Regions from separate parts of the Homo sapiens genome. Here region 1 is linked to region 2. Evidence: fine-mapped expression QTL. Tissue or cell type: testis. Region 2 holds a variant in brackets; the other region holds the start of a gene. All regions are shown on one strand. Distances are from middle to middle.

Region 1 (2,919 bases), 34 kb after region 2:
AACAATCATGAAAATTTGCGACACAGGGATCAGATAAGACTAGCTTTCAAACTAATCAATAATTTTTAAAAAATCTCACCATAATTATAAGAAAAAATTATAAACTTTTTTAAATAGTGGAAAAAATCTGAAGAATTTGCAATAAAATGAACAGTTTAATAATTGGATTTGGTTTGCAGTTTATATAAAATAGGTTTATATTGATGTTAAAGCAAAAATTATAAAATATATTTAAATAACAAGGAAAGAAAGAGAAAGAAAATCTTTATCTTGTCTACAGGGAAGAAGAAATAGAAAAGAATAATAAATATGTTTCTGAAAAGAACTGAACTTCCCAACACTGACTTCCTATTCAGTAACTGACAAGCTATCACTTCCTTGAAAGCTTACTTTGATTTGGCTTTTATCTTACTGACACTAGCTTCTTAAAAACCCCCCTAAGTTTCTCATGTAAATTGCTCTTAACATCAGAGTAGATATAATCTATGAACGCTCCAACTTAAAAAAAAAAAACTAAAATAATGAGTGAAATGTTTACTATAATCACAAAAACTGGCATTAATGTTTCTAGTTTCTTGTTCTGATTTTTGTCTTGAATATAAGGCACGAAAATATCCATTTTTTCCTAAAAGTAAATGAGTTTCCCAAGTTGAATTCGATAAAAAGTTAAAAGGATTCTGCATCTTTTCTGAATTTCACTATAAAGTGCTTATTCGAAAAAATAAATAAATAATCTGCGCTGAGAAATAGGGGCAGAGCTGTCCTGTCAATTATTTGTGTTTGTGTGCTCTTAAGGGGTGCGGGGTTCTTTTCTGTCCCCACAGGTTGTATCTGCTAAGCTGGTTCTGCACGCTCAGCTTTGCAGATGGGAAATACAGCACATGCTTTTTGCTCGTAAAAAATGTGAGCTGCCCCTTGAATTGAAGTCCATCTAACAACTCTGCTAGCGTAAACAGAAATAAAAGACAGTAAACCACCAGGCATTGCTACCCTTCCTTTCCACAGTTTCAGAACCTGGCAGCAAACCCACAGAGTCAAAACCGCACAGGAGCTGCCCAGCTATCGAAATAACTACGCTTCCAGCCCTTCTTCCTCCCATTGCTGGAACCACCCGGTCAAGCTTCTCCCCTCTCTTCTTTCCAGGTGGCGTAATACAGGGTTCCAGAACCGAGATGTGAAAATAGACACAGGTGGGTGTGGCGGTTGAGGCGAGCACGGGCGAAAGACCGAGGGCTTCTCCTCCCCTCCCCACAGAAGCAGCAAAAGAAAAGGCACTTACTTGCAACCTAGCCCGCCGATCATCCCCACCCAGTGCACCTGCAGAATCTGGCTCCAGGAGAGGGCGCGGGCCTCTCCTTCCCCGGCGCTCTCTCAGGGCTGCTTCTTTTTCTCTGGGCTCCTGTTGCTCAGGGGACGCCTGCCGCTAGCAGCCACTGGCACCCAGGCTAGCCCAGCCTCAGCCGAGCTGGCGGAATTGGAAAGCCGACAGCCGCCGCTGGAGCGCTGGCGACCGCCTGCAAGCAGACTGCGCCCCTCCTGCCAGGGCGCGCCCGTGGAGGTAGCAGCCCCGCCTCCCCGAGGGCAGCTGCGCCGCTTTGCCTCCTCCACTCCTCCCAGCGCGCCCGGGTCCCCACCCCTTGCTCCCTCCCTCCCTCCCTCTCTCCACTCCTGCGGGCGGCGCAGGGCGGGGACCCAGCTAGGGGCGCGGTGGTGGCGACGCTGTAGCCTCTGCACCATGCGCTAATAGAAGGCGGAGGAGGGGGTTGCACGACCTGCCATCCACGGCCACCCATTGGGTGGGGCGTGTGTGTGTTTGAGTGTGTGTGTGTGTGTGTCCAGCAGCCAGAAGAGCCCTTCCCTTATCTCACCCCCGCCCCCATCATCCCTTTCCTCCCTTCCTGCTCAGCAGAATCGGCTAATGTTTCCGAGAAGTCACTTTGTGTGGCTTGGTGGGGAGCTGGAGAAAAACTCCGGAGCAGAGGAGGTGGGGACCAATGGCAAAGCCCTGAGTCTGGGGCAGTGGCTGGGGAGCCAGACAACACCGCCAGGCCAGCGCCTCCCCGACCTTGGGCTCTGAAGAGTCTAGGCTGGGAATTGGTTTCTTCCGTAGGGCTTTGCTCACAACCGCGAGTGGGGCGGTGACGCTCAAGACCGGTATCTAGGCTATGTTTTCTGTTTTCTTTATATATATGTATATATAAAATCAATTGAATTGCAGCGTCTTCCAGGCAAGCAAATAATACATTTTCTTTCGAAGATGCAGTGAAGAATCAGAGGAGGTCCTAGGTGGGGAAAGAAACGTGGGGAAAAGGCTGCTTTTCCAGACCTGGGACCCGATTATCTGAATATGCCATCAGTCATATGGGTTCTGAATTTCAGAGCTGGTAGGAGCGACTGTGAAAATAAATTTTTTAAAAATTCATTTTGTGTGGAGTGTGTGCGTGCGCTTTCCTACAGCAGCCTGGGAGGAAGAACAATGGAAACAGGGTTGAATTATCTTTCTCAAAGAGAAACAGGAAATTTCCACCAAGGGAAGAAATCAAAGGATGGCCATAGGGCAGGGTGCCTCTCAAAAGGGCAGACCACTTTGCAGGATAAACACTAGTGACGGGCACTTTTATTATTTGCTTCCACACCTTCTATCATGGAAATGATGCTTAGAGATAACCGGAAGGAAATCAAATCCCAGGGTCTACTTTTCCCTGCTGCTTTCTTTGCTTCTGAGATTTGTCCTGGGGCTTTGGACCTTACATTCTTGACTTGTAAGATGTGCTATTGAAGGAAGGAAACTTCAGTGACTGAGACTGTGCAATGAAGGTGAACTAGCTCACTTGTGATAATTCTCAGTGCCATATCCTGGACAAATCGCCTTCTCTTCCCTGATTGGTGGTAGATATAGGAAGAAGAGTTCAACTGCAA
Region 2 (2,919 bases):
TGACATATCTATTACTTGAAGGTCAAGTACAAGTGCATTTTACCAAATAGTGTTTCCACATTGATTGCAAAACTACTTTTCACTCAGTTTTACTTTCTCAACTACTACTACTGATTCTTGGTTTTTGAATTTTTTAAAAATCAGGCTTCTAATCGTTAAGACTTAGTCCTCTAATCATATCACAACGTTTTCTTTCTTTCTCTTTCTTTTTTTCTTTCTTTCTTTCTTTTCCTTCCTTCCCTCTCTCCTTTCTTTTCTTTCCCTTTCTTTCTTTCTTTCTTTCTTTCTTTCTTTCTTTCTTTCTTTCTTTCTTTCTTTCTTTCTTTTTCTTTCTTTCTTTCCTTTCTCTTCTTTCTTTTTTGATAGTGTATTTCTGTGTCACCCAGGCTGTAGTGCAGTAGTGCATTGACAGCTCACTGCAGCCTCCACCTCTGGGATTCAAGTGACCCTCCCACCTCAGCCTCTCAAGTAGCTAGGACTGCAGGCAGGCGCCACAACACCCGGCTAAGTTTTGTCTATTTTTTATAGAAATGGGGTCTTACTATGTTGCCCCGGCTGGTCTTGAACTCCTGGGCTCAAGTGATCCACCCACCTCAGCCTCCCAAAGTGCTGGGATTGCAGGCATGAGCCGTCCTGCCTGGCTTTGAAGTTTATTTCTTCATGTACAAATATATGCCAAGAATATGGTAGCTGTGTATTTATTCTATATTTTATTTTTATAACTGCATTTCTTTGTATTATTATGTGCATTGATATACTAAAGTATTTTCTAAAGAACTATTTCCTTTGGAAATATCTCTTAATTGACCTTACCTTTTTAGAAGAAAAGTTGAAAACTGGGCTGGGGAACAAATGGAAAATAAGATGCTTTTAACTATCATGTATGTAATAGAGTGACATTTGTCAAGCAAATGGAAATTTCACATTCAAGAATAACTTAGACATATCTATATAATGACATGGTGAGTTACACTGGTTTATAATTTTCACAGCTCTTTCACATATAGCAATGCTCTAAAATATAAACTGCAAAGATTCCTTTCATTTTTCTTACCAAAGGTGACATTGAGATTTACAAAGTTTGGTGCTTGTTACCAAGTCATGTTTAAGGAAACATTGAAGCTATGACCAGAAGTCAGGCTTTGAGCTTTGAGTTCAGTGGCTTCTCCCACTTTATACCGTCTAAGAAAAGTTAATTTGATAGAAGACAATGAAAGAATTGGCAACAATAGACCTGCAGATGTTTTAAAAGGCACTAGTTTAGCCAATATGCCTAAATATGTACATGGGTCTCTTTAAGACTCCACAAAGAGACACTGCTAAGAGTTACTGGAAACAAACTACAGCTGCTCTGTGAATAAATTCTTAGTTCACAGTTGCTGTGGGAAAAAATGAAAGATCCAATTACAAAGTCTGGGAGATTTCCTATAATTAGTTGCTATTATATTACTTTTGCTATGACACAGTACAGAAGAAAGGAAAAAGGAAGAGGAATTGCTGTTTCATTTCTTTATTATTTTCTTAATTGCTTTTTTACTAACAGCCTGTGTCTCAAGGAAGCCAAGCCATATTCATTTCATCAATAACATTAATCTGTCATTTCATTCAGGAAATACAAGAAAGGTTTCGGTTTTAACCTTAAGAATACTAGGATATTCTGATCTCTCTTATATTGTTTTGTAAGCATACTTGCAGAATAATGTCAATACATAGGGAGGGTTGCAGACTTGTGTTTCTGCATGTGTGGCATAAAT[G/A]TTTGTCAAAATAATAACTATGTGATTATTATGTATACTATGTTGTTCCCAAGTCTTGTCCTGATTATATTATACCTTATATTTGAGAAATTATGATGCCCTATAAATAGAGAAAAGCGCACAAACACATCAGCACGTATGTATAGACTATATAATACTAATAATATATTGCATTTACTTTAAAATCGTTTAGAATCTTTGGGCTATTTAAAGTTTGTACAAAAAACACAAATGACTTCAATCAGTAATAGAACCAATCTAGTCAATGAATGCCATATGGAGATGTCCCTGTTTGGTCACTTTTTGACACTGCAGGCCAGTCATGACCCCTTCAATGTGCCAATGGTCAACTACTGCAGTTAGCTTTCCTGCCTTTCCTTAAGGTGATAATATCTATAGGACCAAGTTTTCCATCCTTATAATTAAGTGTTACAAACATTATGGCTTTAATTATAGTGTGGCTTAAACTGTTTTTTAAAGATTAAACCATTAGAGTCAGAGAAAATTTTCTACCTCACGTTTAGAATAGAGTCTCCAATTATTTTTGATCATCACCCTTACCAGCTCAATAATAGCAATACCAATAATAATAAAAGATCTCCCAATAAATGAATTTATATGCTTGCTAAATTATAAACAATCTACACATGCAGTGTAAAACATATGCATTTAAAAATATACACAAAATTGAAACTATTTTTTATTTTATCATTATTTTTTAAATCTATCATTACCTTGATCTTGAATAAAATTGAAACTTTTAAAGATAAGAATGAAGACAAAGCTCTTCCAGCATTGTTCTTAGGTGTGCATATTCAACTTTGGAAACCACAGATTATGCCCTTTGCATACATCCACCACCAAAGCTTCCCTGGAGAACTCAGGCAAACATGTCCCTGTCCATCCCTACCTTCATGCTGCAAAAACGTTTTTAGCACATAGAGTGCATTGAGTTTTAAAACTAGCATTCTTTCAACATCAGATTAATTGAAATGTCTTCTCTTGCATAACATCTTTCTAGAGCCTGTAAAATTAACTAAATAATGTAGTGCAGGTAAAAAGTCTTATTCATATGAAATAATTACACTAATTTTCTTGGTGAGGTGAAAAAAGAGCACCGATTTTTTTGTCATATACTTTGCTTGTTTTATAGGAAAAAAATTAT

Evidence for each region.
Region 1: SCN9A starts here. The variant in region 2 is fine-mapped to the expression of SCN9A in testis (GTEx, PIP 0.91).

Annotation. Positions count from the first base shown.
Region 1 is chr2:166,374,418-166,377,336 of GRCh38, forward strand. SCN9A (sodium voltage-gated channel alpha subunit 9) reads right to left here and starts at 1,527. Exons shown (of 27, transcript NM_001365536.1): 1 at 1,280-1,527.
Region 2 is chr2:166,340,280-166,343,198 of GRCh38, forward strand. All of the region lies in intron 1 of SCN9A (sodium voltage-gated channel alpha subunit 9), which reads right to left. Among named protein-coding and RNA genes, the nearest start is that of SCN9A, 34 kb to the right of the region's middle. The variant G/A (reference allele first, on the strand shown) is at 1,755.